Regions from separate parts of the Homo sapiens genome. Here region 2 is linked to region 1. The links come from fine-mapping of genetic effects on gene expression. A gene starts in region 1. The other region holds a variant in brackets. All regions are shown on one strand. Distances are between the middles of the regions.

Region 1 (8,541 bases):
GTGGAGCTGACTTGTAGTGTAACCCTAAGCAAGACACTTCCCTTTCCACCCAGGCTGCTGCTAGCCCATAGTGTGCCTTGTGTGAATTTGCAAATGGTGCTCTTCCCTCCCTTTACTAGAGAATTGTCACAGCATACTGATTCATTAGAACAAGGCACTTTACTTCCACCTGCCAGGAAGTTGTCCCAAAAGATATGTAATATGTCCATCCCTGAAGTCAATAAAGCTATACTCAAAATATAAACAATTATCAGAAGTAAAAGGTGTCTATGAACATTGCTCCCTCAGATGTGGTGACCTAATGTACAGTCTGACCAACTGTATGCGGAGATGAGAGCCAGGAGCTGTTACCTGGTGGGATGAGCAAGGAGATGCCTGTATCCTGGAGCATCAGGCAACCGCCGCGGTGATCCACCTCTCGAGCCGAAAACACCAACAGTTTGTGCATCAACTGGCGGACCATGGTCTGGCCTTGAGTGGGTGTGTGTAGCTCCTGGTAGAAGGCAACCATCTCTGGCAGTGTGGCTGGCAGGTGCTGCCTTGAGACCTCATTTTCTAGTTGGGGGGTAGGCTGGGACACTGGTTCCTCTTGACCATTCAGTGTCCAGCAGGCCCCCAGCAGCCTTCTAGGGCAGTGCCATCGAAGGCATTGGGCCAGAAGGAGGACACTTGCCACTGGGACCCCCACCAGCAGTAGGAACTGGGAGGGTTGGAATGAACTCTCCTGGGGGCACATTCGCCTGGTTACTCAATGCCGCTGGCTCTCCTTCACCCCTGTGCCAGCCAAAGCCAAAGGCCTGGTGGGGAAGAAGGGGTCAGTGTCAGGGTAAGCCCTTTTAAGTTGTGGAGGTCAAGGCTTGGCTTACACATAGCTGCAAGTTGTCTTCATTCCAGCGCACACTGCACACTTTAGTCACACCAATTCTTTTAACCTGTCTCTCTTACTCGAGAACCTACCCTGGCTCCCCGTGACCTAATACATCAAGGTAAACTGTTCTGAAGCAGAGTGAGCTTGGGTTTACAGTTAGAGAACATGAGTTCAAATGTCACCTTGGTCACTGTGGCTGGGTAAACTTATCATATTGATGTAAGGCAGGAGAGCCCCAAAATTGGGGCTTAGTTTGGGAGGGTTTGTGGCTTCACCTAGGCAAGAATTCAAGGGTGAGCCAGTGGTGTCAGACAGCAACTTTCACTAAAGTGGCAGAGTATAGCAGCAGCAGAGGTATGCTCCTTACAGAGCAGAGCTAACCCTAGGCAGTGTGCCCAGGGTAGCAGCTCTGGGGCATTTCTGCCATCATATTTATGTCCACTTTTAATTACATGCAGTAAGGGGTGGGTTATTCAGAAATTTCTAGAAAAAGGAGTGGTAGCTTCGGGTCACTGCCATGGAAAGGGGCAGTAACTTCCAGGCATCGCCATGGCAGTGGTAAACTGTCATGGCACTGGTGGGCATGTCTTATGGAGAGGTGCTTTTGGTGCCTTTTCCCTGTTTCAGCCAGTTTTCTATCTGGCCTGGAATCAAATCCCACCTCCTGCCTCAATACTGCTTAATGTACCTCAGTTTCCTCATCTGTCCAAATATCTACCTTGATCTACAAGTGCTGATACAAAAAAATCTATAAGTGGAAAAAGCAAGTCGCAGAGAGATAAAATATTCTGAGCTCATTAATGTGAAAAACAAAACTGCATATAAATAGATACATATTTATGGGTGCATATATGGAAATGTAAAGGTATAGAGAAAGGTCTGGAGCAGTGGTGTACAATAAAAATGTAATGTGAACTACACATGTAATTTTAAATTTCCTGATGGCCACATTAAAAAGAACAGGAGAAATTAATACATTTTATTTAACCCAATATATTCAAAATGTTATTTCAACAGGTAATCGATATAAAATTATGAGATATTTTTACTTTCTTCCTTCATACCCAGTCTTTGAAATCCATGTGTAATTTATATGAACAGAACAGCTCACTTGGGACTGGCTGTATTTCAAGTGCCCAGTAGCCACGTGTACTAATGAATCCGGTCTTAGACTGTGCAGGTCTGGAAGGACACACCCCCAAACTATTCCCATGAGTCACAACAAATTGAGAAGGTGGAAGGTGTGAATAAAAACTTTGTATTTTTTTAAATCCTTTTCTCTGTACTTTGAATTTTTCACATCAAGCATGTAGTTTGTATTAACTTTGTAATTCTTTTCTGAAGCTATTAAAAGTGGGGAAAAAGTGCCTCTTTGTGTAATGGTGAGGATGGCATAAGGTCATGTGAAAAGTATTTGTAGATGAGAAAGCACTGTCCAAATGTATGTGTTTCTTTATGCCCCTCCTTCTGCCAGAAAGGCCTGAAGGTAGCTCACAGGGATAGGCAACATACAACAAGAACAACAAAAGCTAAAAGTGGAAGCAAAAAAAAAAAAAAATGAAGAAGACAAAACACAAAGATGCAGCCCTACAGTGAAGCTGGAATGAGGCAGGGCAAAAGCATACACTCACCTCCTGCTCACCTGGCTACCCAGCCAGGCCACAGGCTGAGACTTCCCAGTAGCTCTTCCTGAGGCCCTCCAGAACCCACCTCCGCCTCCTCCTACTTCCCCTCTTCCAGCCCCTACAATTTCCAACACGCCTGCCCTGTAGCCTGCCCAGGCTCCCCACACCTGCTTAATTCTAGCCTCTGGCTTTTGCTCATGCTGTTTTCTGTTTCTCCACTCACTTGCTCTCCCCACTTGTTTCCTCTCCCTACGTGGATCCTCCCATTCAATAGTGCCTCCCGCTGGTGCACCGGCCTTTGACAGCCTCCAGCTCGCGAAATCTCTCTCCACAGCCATCCCACCATACTGAGTCACTCTTGATTATGTGCTGTCATGTGTGATTTTCCCACTCAAATGAACATTTTCTAAGCACCGGCTGTGTATCGGACACTGTGGGAAGTTCAATCCTGCCAAAGATGACGTCTTATTCCGCTCTCAAGGAGCTTCTGCAGGAATGGAATTCATTGGCTTGGTAGCTGAGTTCTGTGAGGCACAACGTCCTCCTTCAGAGCCCTGGGAGGCCCCTCTGGTTGACTCACTAGAGGCTGCACTGGAAGAGCTTCCAGTATCCAGTCCTCCCCACGCCCTTCACTTGCACTACCCACCTGGAACTGAGGCTTGGCCCACCTTCTTCCTTCCAACCTCAGGACCCATGAAAACTGAAGCCCCTTCCTAGTGCCTCTTAGACCAGGGCAGAACCTCCACTGTATCCTCAGGATTGAAGACTGGGGCAGTACCTGTTTCTCCCATGTCCTCACTGAAAGTGTGAATAAGAAGCGGGGGTTGGCATTGTTCTCTTTGCCTAAAGAGCCAACCCAGCAGACAATGCACCAGCCTTTTTCAACCAGGCATCCTGGAGGGCACACAGGTGAATCAGTGAATTGGCAGTGTCCCAAAGCTGATGGGAAGGGGGTTGGAGCAGCAAGCTACCGTTGATGTCCCATCATTTCTTTTGGTTCTTTCACATTAGTAATAATTATAATTCCAACTGTAATAACAATAGCTAACATTCGCAGAGCTTTACTCAATGCCACTGTGTTAAAGCACTCTCCATGGCTTGTCTCATCTCATCCTCACAGCAGCCTTAGGAGCGAGGTGTTATTTTTATCTCCATTTCACAGATAAGGAATCCGAGCTTTCTCCCCACAGTGAAGATGGATAGGGAATTACTAAACAACTGAAGACAGGCAGGAAGGAGGAGCAAAGACGAACAAGGACTTCCAGAGATACCCCCTTTCTCTCTCCACCCCTTCTTTTCCCCAAGTATCTTCCTTTCCTTCTCTAGAAGAAATAAAGTTGGAAGAGAAAGAAGCAAAAATGAAGTAAAGACAAATAGAAGGACCTAAATTTACATCCTCAGTTATGTGGTAATACCCACCCCACTACACCACACCCCCACCTACCAAGGTACCAGTGGCAGGGGATGGAATTGCTAAAGGGATGAAAGGAGGGGCCCCAGCTCGCTTACACAGCAGTAACCTTCCTGGGGCCACCAAAGACCAGAGTCCAGATCCCCAGTGAGGTGCACCTCACTGGGTGGTGCAGTAGAGTCCCCTGGCTCAACCTCCGACCCTGGAGAAGTTGGCATGCACCACTCCCAAAGCCCCACTGGGCCTCTCCCAGGGTGACTGCTCTTCCAGGCTGCCCTGGCCCTCACTGCATCCTCCCTCTGGCTCCAGAATGGGGAAAGGTCCGGAGTCTTGCTGAATGGCAACTATAGCACTGCAGCCATTCGAGTGTGACTTGGGGCATCCCAACCCCATGCCTGGACTCCTCATTACCCACTCCTCCAGTCTGTCTTGCTCCAGACCCCAGATCACCCTGGGTAGCGGGTCCCCGAAACGAGAGTCCTTTAGAATGCTGCCATCACCTGTCCCTAGGCAGTTGCATCCTCCAGCACAAAGATCCAAACTCCTGCTGCAAAGTTCTGCTCATACCCTTTAAGAAAACTCTCAACCTTTCCTCCACCTCACTGGTTCTCCCTGTGCCTCCCCAACACCTGATAGATGTCCAGTTACTGCAGAACATAACAAGTACTGGGATGGATGGTCCAAACCCAAGTCATGAATGGCATTTGTTAGTATAGTAGACATTTCCGCAGGACACAGAATCATCCCAGTGGTCCTCATACCCATTGGCCAAGTCCCATTTTCCTCCCCTCCTCCAGCAGAGGGTCCCTACACTCCAGCAGGCAGGCTAAGCTGGCCTGGCTCCTCCCCCGAAGCTCCAGGTAACCCCATCACAATGCCCATCCCCTCTCCAGCTGCCCCAAGGGGGTGCTCAACTTACCGTCTAGGAGCTCTTAGAGGCTGCTGGCTGGTCCAGTTCCTTCTCCGAGAAACAAGGGTCAGCCAGATTCAGTCGGCAGGCCAGCAGACAAGTGGAGGTGGGCGGGGAATCCAGGCAGGAGTGGCCTGGCATTTCCTGGCAGAGCCCTGCCTCCCAGCTGTCTAAAGAGGGGTGAGGGAGAGTGTCCCTGTCTATTGGCAAAGTCCAGCCCAGGTAAGGGATTAGCTGAGGATCCCAGAAGTCAGTGAACTTTCCAGTCTAGGTCTGGAAGGAAGGAGGGAGGCAGGGAGACAACCTGGGTGTAGGTGCTGCACCTTGAAACCCCTCCTTACAGTGCCCTCTGCTGGTGAGTGGCTGTCCCCAGCCAGAGGCTATTATTAAAATAGCAGATAGGAGGAGGAGGGAACCTTCATCTGAGTTTCTTAAACTATAATGTGCACAACAGTCACCTGGGAGATCTTGTTAAAATGCAGGCTCTGATTCTGTAGGTCTAGTATGGGGCCTGAGATTCTGCAGCTCAAAGAAGCTCCCAGCTGATGCCAATGCAACCGGTCCAAGGAGCTTAGAGAGCATCTAGTTCCACCCGCTCCCCACACAGAGAAGACAGTGGAGCCACTGAGACGGTTAATGACTCACCAGTTGCTGGTGGACCTGAGATGTACCCATATTTTTCCTTACACAAGGTGCTTTCTACTTCCCCCACCCAAAGTTGGCAGAGACACTGCCGGTTGGGAGACAACTGAACTTTGGGGCCATTTGCCATTCTGAGTTCTTAAAACTCTGCCTAGGAGCGGTGGCACCACAAGAATGAAAACTCCTTGTGGAACTTTTCCCATGTTTTCGGCTGTCTCCTCAGCTCCTGGTACAGCCTGATAGATAGAAGGTGTTCAATAAACATGTCTTGAATGAATGAGTGAAGCAGTTGAGAGGGAAAAGGATGCATTTTGGCTCCAACTGGCCAACACTGAGCCCAGGTGAGCCACACGTTGGGTATGTAATATTGGGCAAGCTACTTAACTCCTCTGAACCTCAATTCCCTTGTCTGTCAAATGCAGTTAAGAATATCTACCTTGTGTGAGATAATAATTGTCATTATTGAGCTAATAAATGTCAAATGCCCACCACAGAATGGGTGGTCAATAGATGGTAACCGTTGTCACCAGGGTCTGGCCTCCTGCAGTTGAGGAGGCATGGTGAACGCCCCCCCAGGCCCCTAGTTATCATCTCCCATAGAAAATAAGTAACTTCCTCTGCTTTTGTCTCAGTTAATAATTCTCTAGCCTCTTGTCTCTGACTGCAATGCCCTCCCCTCTGCTTCCTTCCCTGGTGGAGGTGAGAGGGTGGAATAAACCTCCCAGGGGAGCCCAGTACCCCAAAGTGCAGAGATGGTAGAGAGCGGGCAACCTGGGAAGCAGACCTCATGCCTAAAGACAAGCCAGGAAGGGGTGCTCAGAACTTTGATAGGGAATGAAAGGAGTGGGGTAGGGGTGTTTGTCTTTGTTGAACAAAGCTCTGTCTGAGTCACACAGGAGGCTGGACTTTGCCAACAGACAGGGACACTCTCCCCTACCCCTCTTTAGGGCGGCTGGGAGGCAGGACTTTCTGCCAGGAAGCGCCAGGTCACTCCTCCTTGACTCCCCACCCACCTCCACTTGTCAGCTGCCTTCTCCTCTGAGTCATAAAGTCCTAGGGGTTTGTGAAAGATCTGTCAAGCTAGGGTTCTAAGCCAGGAAGGTCATGCCAACCAGGAGGCTATAACCAGGGGCTGTGTTCATGGATTATGAACTCACTTCCCAAGCTAGTTCTTGCCACTCTTGGGGACAATCCCAATTATAAGGAGGCTCTGAAGAAATGTGAAGGCTCCTACCACTCACTCCCATGGCCACAGAGCTGGTTCATGGGATGCAAAGACCACAGGCATCAACAGCATTATAACTGGGGGCTGAGCTGTCACAGGAGGGCCAGTGTCAAACCCTCACCACAAGCCCTCAAACATTCCATCAAGGGGTAGCCTCCAGAGGCCAGGCACCAAGGAGGGTCTGGCAGACCAGAGGGGCTCCTCCTGAGAGGAACTCTTTGGGGCCATGAAACAGCAACTTGGACTTCCCAGCCAGTGTCACCACCCTTCTCATCTGAGAAAGGCAGATCAGCAGGGAGCACCACTCCACCCTCCTCCCAGCCCCACCCTCCTCCCAGCCCCACCCTCCTCTGCCTTCCACACATCATATGTCATCAGGCCCCCCGCCTGGGAGGTGTGCTGCCAGAGGTAAGGGGAGCACAGGCCTAGGAACCAGGAGGCACTGGGAGAGGCAGGTGTCAGGAGAAAAGAGGATGGGGGCAGGGAGGGGCAGGGAGGGGGCCTCCACCACTGGACAGAAATGTAGAAAAACAGGAAGGCAGAAGATGAGCAAACGGACAGTCAGGAGCACAGAAAGACAAGTAGAAATATGCACAGGTGGGCATGCTGCTCAGCTCTGTCCCAGAACCTCCAGGACCAGTGTCCCTGACCCTTGACAGAAAAGGATGGATTAGGGCCAGGCACAGTGGCTCATGCCTGTAATCCCAGCACTTTGGGAGGCCAAGGCGGGTGGATCACCTGAGGTCAGGAGTTCGAGACCAGCCTGACCAACATGGCAAAACCCCATCTCTACTAAAAATACAAAATTAGCCGGGCATGGTGGCGCACGCCTGTAATCCCAGCTACTAGGGAGGCTGAGACAGGAGAATCACTTGAACTAGGGAGGCAGAGGTTGCAGTGAGCCGAGATTGCACCACTGCACTCCAGCCTGGACAACAAGAGTGAAACTCTGTATGAAAAGAAAAAAAAAAAAAGGATGGATTAGATAGTCAGTCCAGAATACTGAAAATAATCAGATTGTTTTCTCTCCTTCAAATCTGGTTAATCATGGGGGGAGGCTGAAATATCATGAACAAATGAGAAGAATGATATTTGTGGGGCCTTGGTGGGGCCTTGGCTGGAGGAGGGTCTGTACATTGTCCCACATGCAAATGACATGCAAAGCAACATGCCACCTTGGCAGCTTTTTAATCAAAGACCAGGCAGTTGTTTCCTTGAAAAGTCAGGCCACAAGAAACCTGGATGCTTGTGCTTACATCCTGACACTCTGGGAATGGAAAGATGGAGCAGGAAGCTCATACCCCATGGCTCCAGGGGTAGAAGAGAGCTAAAAGTTCAGAAAAAGGAATCCACGGTGTCAACAGGCCAAGTTTGAATTTGGGCAGGAGATCAGCCTGGGTGGGCCCCATGAGTGTGCCAGTCTGATATGGTGAGATAAGCCTGGGACAGATGTGCTGCCGCATTCGTGACTAGAAAAGAGTCCCCAGGAATTTCTGGCTCCTGCCTTCAGATTGTGAACTTTCCAGGTTGGTAGATCAGCTTAGGTAGAACAGTTCTCGGTGAGGGCCAGCTACATACCTGGCTAAGCGCTGCCCACTGCAGAAAAGCTCATCACCCGGGACCTGATCTCCAGGACTCAGAAGCACTTGGAGGAAGGCCTATTCACTTAGAAGCAGTTACCAGTGCTGGGCAGTGTCCTCCAAGTGCCAGAGGAGTGCTGTGGAGAAAAGAAGTCCATGGAAGCCAGGAGATGGGCAAGGTGTGGCCTGGGGTTGGAGAGAGCTCAGAGGTACAGGACTGGAGCTGGGCCAGGGAGAGAGGAAGGACCTCCGTGAGTAGACCTTCTCTGAGGGGCTCAGG
Region 2 (8,541 bases), 87 kb after region 1:
TAAACATGAAAGTCCAGAAAAAAGAATTGTACACTATTGATGAGAAGGATGACTTGAGGATTTGGATGGGGGATGGGAGAAGGGAGGAAATTAGGAGAGGAATAAAGGGTAGAAGTATGTATAAAAGCAGAAGGCATCCCAGAGCTGTGATGTAATAGAAGCAAGAGCTGTTATAAGGTGAACAGGAATAGTGATTAGTTGTAAGATACCGATTGGTACAGAGAATGTTGTTAGTTTATAAGAGAAAATTAGAGAACAGGCAGACAGGTGGGGTAAAACACTTTAAACCATGGTACACTCCAGTCATCTTCATCCTTTAGGTTTTTTTTTTTTTTTGACTAAATTATTATATTTTTGTGCCTTTAAAACTACAGTCACTGAGAATGGTGCTTTCCTCAGTCATAGCCTGTTTTCTTTATAGCCAATGCCATGAAATCCATAATGTATAGTATTTCTCCTGCCAACTCTGAGGAAGGCCAGGAACTTTATGTCTGCACAGTCAAGGATGATGTGAACTTGGATACAGTACTTCTCCTACCCTTTTTGAAAGGTAAGTCCCTTGAAGACTTCAAGTGAACCAATTACAGATATCATTGCAATTAGTGATTTGGTGAGTAGTTGAGTATAGGTCTCTCATTATCATTCTGGCTTCATTTCTTCTAAAAAAGAAATCCACCTTCTAGAAATAAGTTCTGGCATTGCCTGAAGAGCTCTTTGAAGACTTGTAATGCTACTTGAGTAAGGTTTTACTTAAGCGAGCTTATTGTTCTCTTTGGGGCTGACTGATGACCTGGAAAAGTTTTCCAATTATTTAATACAAAATAGGTCGTGAGTTTCCCTTTGTGCATATTCTTGTTCCAGAGTAGACAGTAAGCAAAGAAGATGATGTTGCTAAGATTTAAGAAAATCCATGGTGTTAGTGAAGATACAATGTTATGCACATAGCAAGAGTTTAATAAAAAAAGAGTGCAAAGTAGAATGACTGATGCCATAAAGAATAATGAAACTATCAGAATCAGGTAGGCATAGTTGGAGAGGGGATGTTCTTCTTAGAAATGAATTTTTCTTATTTTAATATTTAATTCAAGTGTTTGGTGGGCAAGGTACTAATACTAAGCCTTCTTGAGGAATATTGTAATGAACAGCATACCTTCAAGTAAAGTATGGTCTTGTTGAGAAAATAAGACACACACATGAAACAGCAGTTCAGGACACCATGGTAGTTAAGGGCCAGGGCTCTAGAGTCAGAAAACCCTGGGCACCATGGGCTCCTGCACTAACCAACTATGGAACTTTGAATAAGTTAGTCAACTTCTCACTCATCAGTCAAATGAGGATAATAATAGTCCCTACCTCTTGGGGCTAGTTGAGGATTAAATTAAATAAATTATGGCACATAATAAATATTCCATGACTGTTAGCTATTATATTATAAGCTTTTTACTCTGAAGGTTTTAGGTTCAACTAGACAGTTTACACTGATAGAACTATGATAGACCATACTTAACAATGGCTTTTCTTACTCAGAAGGAAATACAGGATGCTAACAGGACAACAGCAGGTACTTTTCTTCAGTGAGAGTTTTTACAGGAGTTTACATAGCACTCCAGGGGCTATTCTCTGGAACCTCAAGTAATAGCTCAGCTGTGAGGAATGAAACCATGACTCATGGGTGCTTAGAGGCCTCATGGACCAACTGAAGGCCATATCTCTTATAATGGCCCGAACAGGCATCACTTTCAGGCTCTGCAAGAGGCATGACCTTTTACAAGAATTATTATACCCAAGGAAGCCCAAATCTGTGGCTTGCCACCAGTTCATTCAGTTTTCCCAGTCCAAATTCAGTTTCCCAAGCAGAGGTTGTTCTTAGCATAAGCAAAGAAGTTTGGCTAAGTGGAGAAGGGAGGATTGAGGTGGGAGCAGTAGACAGGGGTAGATGAAAAGTTTTCATCTTTATTTAAAAAAAAAACTGTACACATTTTCAACATGATATATTCTAGATTTGTAGAAATCTTGTTCACTGCTGATTGACTGATTGATTGATTTTGGCAGAAATAGCAGTAAGCCAACTGGATCAACTGAGCCCAGAGGAACAGTTGCTGGTCAAGTGTGCTGCAATCATTGGTCACTCCTTCCATATAGATTTGCTGCAGCACCTCCTGCCTGGCTGGGATAAAAATAAGCTACTTCAGGTCTTGAGAGCTCTTGTGGATATACATGTGCTCTGCTGGTCTGACAAGAGCCAAGAGCTTCCTGCTGAGCCCATATTAATGCCTTCCTCTATCGACATCATTGATGGAACCAAAGAGAAGAAGACAAAGTTAGGTAAGGAAGGGCTGTTCCCTTTTTCTCAGGTCTGAACAAAGAGTCCCTGTGGGGGTATCTGTGTTCAGAAAGGCCATCAATATCATATATCAAGGGGTTCTCTCATTCGTTTGTTTAAAGATGGAGTTTTGTTATGTTGCCCAGGCTGTAACTCCTGGGCTCAGTGGGCGCATACCACCACACCCAGTTTGAGGGTCTCTCTCTCAAAGCCTATGGCTAAGAAACAGAGAGAAAATTATCATTTAAACCATGAAAGAGCCATGGATAGTGAAAAAATATCCTGTATTTTCAGACTTGTCTTCATTTCAGGAATTCTAGCGCCTTTTTAACCCAGGTGTTGGTATTTGTGTTTTGATTTTTGGTTCTGAAAATATTGACATAATCTTTTATTGGCTTCTAGGTGCAAAGAATGAGATAAAAGGATAAACCATCCCCAATTTTAGAAACTCACAAGGAAGACAAACACATGTGGCATTGAAACAGACATGAACAAAGCAAGATATAAATAGCTTGCAATCTCGAATTATCCACATGAAAGAATAAGATGGTAGCATGGACTACCCAAAGCACATAGAATTCACAAATACTTTCCCTTTGAGTTTGAAATATGTTTGGGCCCTATATTTGAACAGAGAATTTCCTATGATTTGACATTTGTAATAATTTGAAGTAAAACCTCAATTTAGGAGAAACAATTAAGAAATCAGTGGTAATCCCAGCACTTTGGGAGGCCGAGGCGGGCGGATCACGAGGTCAGGAGATCGAGACCATCCCGGCTAAAACGGTGAAACCCCGTCTCTACTAAAAAATACAAAAAATTAGCCGGGCGTAGTGGCGGGCGCCTGTAGTCCCAGCTACTTGGGAGGCTGAGGCAGGAGAATGGCGTGAACCCGGGAGGCGGAGCTTGCAGTGAGCCGAGATCCCGCCACTGCACTCCAGCCTGGGCGACAGAGCGAGACTCCGTCTCAAAAAAAAAAAAAAGAAATCAGTGGTATAGAAGTACAGGATTTTTTTGTACCACTGATCATTTCTTCTCTGTTGTACTTTATACAAGATATGGTCAGTATCACTCTTAGAATGGTGCAAAATTTTTTATACAAAGGAGGCAGTAATATTAGCTTAGAGTTGTAAATAGAATTTTCTTACACACTAGCAGCCATGTGCTTGGGAGTTTGCCATATTGAAGCACAAAGGATTATAAAGGAAAATCTCACTTAGATTTTCCTAAATTTCAGATGGTGGGTCAGCCTCTCTTCTCAGGCTACAAGAAGAATTATCCCTACCACAAACTGAGGTGTTGGAATTTGGAGTGCCTCTGCTA[C/T]GGGCAGCTGCTTGGGAGCTCTGGCCCAAGGAACAACAGATAGCTCTGCACCTTGAATGTGCCTGCTTTCTCCAAGTTTTGGCCTGCCGCTGTGGGAGCTGCCATGGAGGAGACTTTGTCCCCTTTCATCATTTTGCAGTTTGTTCTACTAAGAATTCCAAGGGGACCTCTCGATTCTGTACTTACAGAGATACTGGCTCAGTGCTAACACAAGTGATCACAGAAAAATTGCAGCTGCCTTCTCCCCAAGGTAAACCCAGGAGGCAGAAAGAATACATGGGTATTCGTGTACTTGGAGTTCTTCATCAAAAAGTTGAAATCAGATTAAAGGAGAAAAGTAGGTAGAAAGAACCACTTATTTATTCCTGAAGTACTAGAGATTAAAAAAAAATGTAATCTCAGAGTTAAAAACTACCTTAGAGATCATATTTGTTTTGATTGGCAATCTTGGGCAAGTTACTTAACCTCAATCAATTGGGGACATAATAATACCAACTTCATGGGCTGGGTGCAGTGGCTTACACCTGTAATCCCAGCATTTTGAGAGGCTTAGGTGGGTGGATCACTTGAGGTCAGGAGATCAAGACCAGCCTGGCCAACATGGTGAAACCCCCTCGCTACTACAAATACAAAAATTAGCCAGGCATGGTGGCAGGCGCCTGTAAACCCAGATACTTGGGGGTCTGAGGCAGGAGAATCGCTTGAGCCTGGGAGCCAGAGGTTGCAGTGAGCCGAGACTGCGCCACTGCACTCCAGCCTAGGTGACAGAGTGAGACTCTGTCTCGAAATAAATAAATTAATTAATAAATAATAATATCAACTTTACTGGGTCATTGTGGGGATTAAATTAGTTAAAATATATAGTGTGCTCTGAACAGTGCCAGACATGTGGTGATTGCTCAATACCCTTTAGCTATTGTTTTGATTATTACTATTATTTTTCAGCTCAGTACACACACATTGAGTCCTTATGTGTATCAGATTCTATACTAAGGAATATGGTGTGAATAAGCCTTGGTCTTTGCACTCTTGAAGCTATCTGTTTTGGGGGTTACTATAGACATATAGATAGAGAATTCTAGTATGGCATGGTAAAAGCAATGAAAATGAGAAGGGGCCATTAACTCAGCCAGGGAAATATGTCAGTGAAGATTCTCCTTTGAAGTAGATCATGTCAGAATTGCATCTAGAGGGATAAGCAGGAGTTAGCTACCTGAAGAAGGTTTTATTAGTTAATAGATATTCACCATATCCTGTTAAACTGCATCCCAGATGAGTTCATTCATCTTTGTTTAGCCTTTTCAGTTAGCTTACATTACAGAACAGCTCATTGTCTCCAGCTGTCAGAAAGTTTCTTCTTTCATCAGGATGTAAGCTGCCTCGTTGTAGTTTCCCCCATTTTTCATAGTTATATTCTCTTCCATACTTGAAGATAGCTATCAAGACCCAACCAAGTCCTCTTTCCCTACTTTGATAAAAGAGGAGTTGGTTTGGTATTGGGGGTGGGGTGGATGGTATGTGGAAAATGATAGATAGTTGTTGGCAAAAGGCTAAAATGAGGGATTTGGTGTATGATACAATTCCTCTTCTAGCTATAGCATCATGACTATGAAGGTGGACCAATGACTTGGAGCAATTAGTCATTGGTTGATGAGCTCTATGTGCATTTGCACCTGTTGTGCTTTCCAAAGTCTGGTATTGTGAAGAAATTGTGCTATTGTTCATATTTCCTGTGTGACTTTTTTGCTTTTAAGAGGTCAGTTTTGGCCAGGTACAGTGGTTCACACCTGTAATCCCAGCACTTTGGGAGGCCAAGGCAGGCAGATAACAAGGTCAGGAAATCGAGACCATTCTGGCTAACACGGTGAAACCCCATCACTACTAAAAATACAAAAAATTAGCCGAGCGTGGTGGCAGGCACCTGTAGTCCCAGCTACTCGGGAGGCTGAGGCAGGAGAATGGTGTGAACCTGGGAGGCAGAGTTTACAGTAAGCCAAGATCGCGCCTCTGCACTCCATCCTGGGCTACAGAGCAAGACTCTGTCTCAAAAAAATTAATAAATAAATAAATAAAAAGAGGTCAGTTTTGTTTATTTATTTATTTATTTATTTTGCTTTGGATTAGACAGCCTGGTCCATCTATAGTAAAAAGGCTCAAGACCTTCTCAGCCCAGCAGAACCTTAAGGAGGCTTCCCAGACCCAAGGCCTTTGTGCATTGCCATTGCAGACCAGGCACTGCCTGATTCCAGAGGGTACTGTTACAGAGGCTATGATATGATGGTGCCTCTTGGAGTTATGTACTGCAGTAGAGCTGCCAATATCCTCAGTTATCTTAGCTGTGATTTAACATTATTATCATCAGCAAGCCAGTCCTTTTACTTAACCCAAATCCTCCCTAAAACAGTCCTCTTAGACTCCTTATCAATCCCACCATCCATGCTGTGAGTTCCAATGGGTAACATCTGAACATCATTCCTAATATTTGCTGTTGTGATCTATTAGAAGGCAGCTTTAGAAGAAGAGTCAAATCTTTAGGATAAAGGCTAATTAAAAGCCTGCTAGGTAAAGCTGGAAAGCTCTCTTGGTCACTGACTAGGGAACTGTGGTATCTTATACTGTCACAATTTTCTTCACTTGGTTTTAGCCTTTACACTTCACTCCGATCTGGTCATGAAATTGATCCATATGTATTCAAGGATTTCCACTATTAGTGATAGCCAGCAAACCAGGATAGACACATTCTTTATTTTTCCTTCATTTTGAAACTACTGAGCACCTCCTTCAAAATCAGAACTAGTTTAAAGGTTTGGGAATGAAGAGAGTTATTATTTGAATCACAAGTAGTTGTGAAGGAATTTACAAACTACCATCCTAATTTTGTGTTGTAAACTGCAGAAGAAAGGTAGTCAGGAATTTAAAATGTCCTCAGTTCATCCAAACATGGAGAATTAATCATATTTTTTTCTCCCTACAGATAGTTTTCAGTTCCAGACAAAACCATCCAGAACTCAGGAGGCCTTCTCAAGTGAATGCTGCAGGTAGACAGAGATGCTGAGGGTGAACATGGAGGGACCAAAAGTGACAGAAAGATGACCATTAAACTGAGCCACTTATGTCACTTGCAGATGAGGAGTGGTGACTCTTGTACTCAGTATTAAGGTTAACAGAGAAGATTTGGAAAGGCAATTTTTGATTCTCTATAGGGAAATTATTTCTTTTTTTTTCTTTCTTTTTTTTTTTTTTTTTTGAGATGGAGTCTCTCTCTGTTGCCCAGGCTGGAGTGCAATGGCATGATCTTGGCTCACTGCAACCTCCGCCTCCCGGATTCAAGTGATTCCCCTGCCTCAGCCTCCTGAGTAGCTGGGATTACAGGCATGTGCCACCACACTTTGCTAATTTTTGTATTTTTAGTAGAGATGGGGTTTCACCGTGTTAGCTAGGATGGTCTCCATCTCCTGACCTCATGATCAGCCCACCTCAGCCTCCCAAAGTGCTGGGATTGCAGGCATGAGCCACCACACCCGGCGGGAAATTATTTCTTTTTATTTTATTTTATTTTATTTTATTTTATTATTATTGTACTTTAAGTTTTAGGGTACACGTGCACAATGTGCAGGTTAGTTACATATGTATACATGTGCCATGCTGGCGTGCTGCACCCATTAACTCGTCATTTAGCATTAGGTATATCTCCTAAAGCTATCCCTCCCCCCTCCCCCCTCCCCCCACCCCACAACAGTCCCCAGAGTGTGATGTTCCCCTTCCTGTGTCCATGTGTTCTCATTGTTCAATTCCCACCTATAAGTGAGAATATGCGGTGTTTGGTTTTTTGTTCTTGCAGTAGTCTACTGAGAATGATGATTTCCAATTTCATCCATGTCCCTACAAAGGACATTAACTCATCATTTTTATGGCTGCATAGTATTCCATGGTGTATATGTGCCACATTTTCTTTTTTTTTTTTTATTTTTTTTTATTTTTTTATTTTTTTTAATTTTTTTTTTTATTATACTCTAAGTTTTAGTGTACATGTGCACATTGTGCAGGTTAGTTACATATGTATACATGTGCCATGCTGGTGCGCTGCACCCACTAACGTGTCATCTAGCATTAGGTATATCTCCCAATGCTATCCCTCCCCCCTCCCCCGACCCCACCACAGTCCCCAGAGTGTGATATTCCCCTTCCTGTGTCCAAGTGATCTCATTGTTCAATTCCCACCTATGAGTGAGAATATGCGGTGTTTGGTTTTTTGTTCTTGCGATAGTTTACTGAGAATGATGGTTTCCAATTTCATCCATGTCCCTACAAAGGACATGAACTCATCATTTTTTATGGCTGCATAGTATTCCATGGTGTATATGTGCCACATTTTCTTAATCCAGTCTATCATTGTTGGACATTTGGGTTAGTTCCAAGTCTTTGCTATTGTGAATAGTGCCACAATAAACATACATGTGCATGTGTCTTTATAGCAGCATGATTTATAGTCCTTTGGGTATATACCCAGTAATGGGATGGCTGGGTCAAATGGTATTTCTAGTTCTAGATCCCTGAGGAATCGCCACACTGACTTCCACAATGGTTGAACTAGTTTACAGTCCCACCAACAGTGTAAAATGTTCCTATTTCTCCACATCCTCTCCAGCACCTGTTGTTTCCTGACTTTTTAATGATTGCCATTCTAACTGGTGTGAGATGGTATCTCATTGTGGTTTTGATTTGCATTTCTCTGATGGCCAGTGATGGTAAGCATTTTTTCATGTGTTTTTTGGCTGCATAAATATCTTCTTTTGAGAAGTGTCTGTTCATGTCCTTCGCCCACTTTTTGATGGGGTTGTTTGCTTTTTTTCTTGTAAATTTGTTTGAGTTCATTGTAGATTCTGGGTATTAGC

The links. PIP is the estimated chance that this variant, and not a neighbour inherited with it, causes the effect.
Region 2: its variant is the best candidate, but not a certain one, in a credible set for the expression of UNC5CL in whole blood (TOPMed, PIP 0.89).

The regions. Positions count from the first base shown.
Region 1 is chr6:41,034,339-41,042,879 of GRCh38, forward strand. It overlaps UNC5CL (unc-5 family C-terminal like), which reads right to left and starts at 4,883. Exons shown (of 9, transcript NM_173561.3): 1 at 4,824-4,883; 2 at 352-797. The coding sequence starts at 736. It overlaps TSPO2 (translocator protein 2), which reads left to right and starts at 8,129. Exons shown (of 4, transcript NM_001010873.3): 1 at 8,129-8,440.
Region 2 is chr6:41,120,925-41,129,465 of GRCh38, forward strand. It overlaps the pseudogene ADCY10P1. Among named protein-coding and RNA genes, the nearest start is that of TREML1, 29 kb to the right of the region's middle. The variant C/T (reference allele first, on the strand shown) is at 3,647.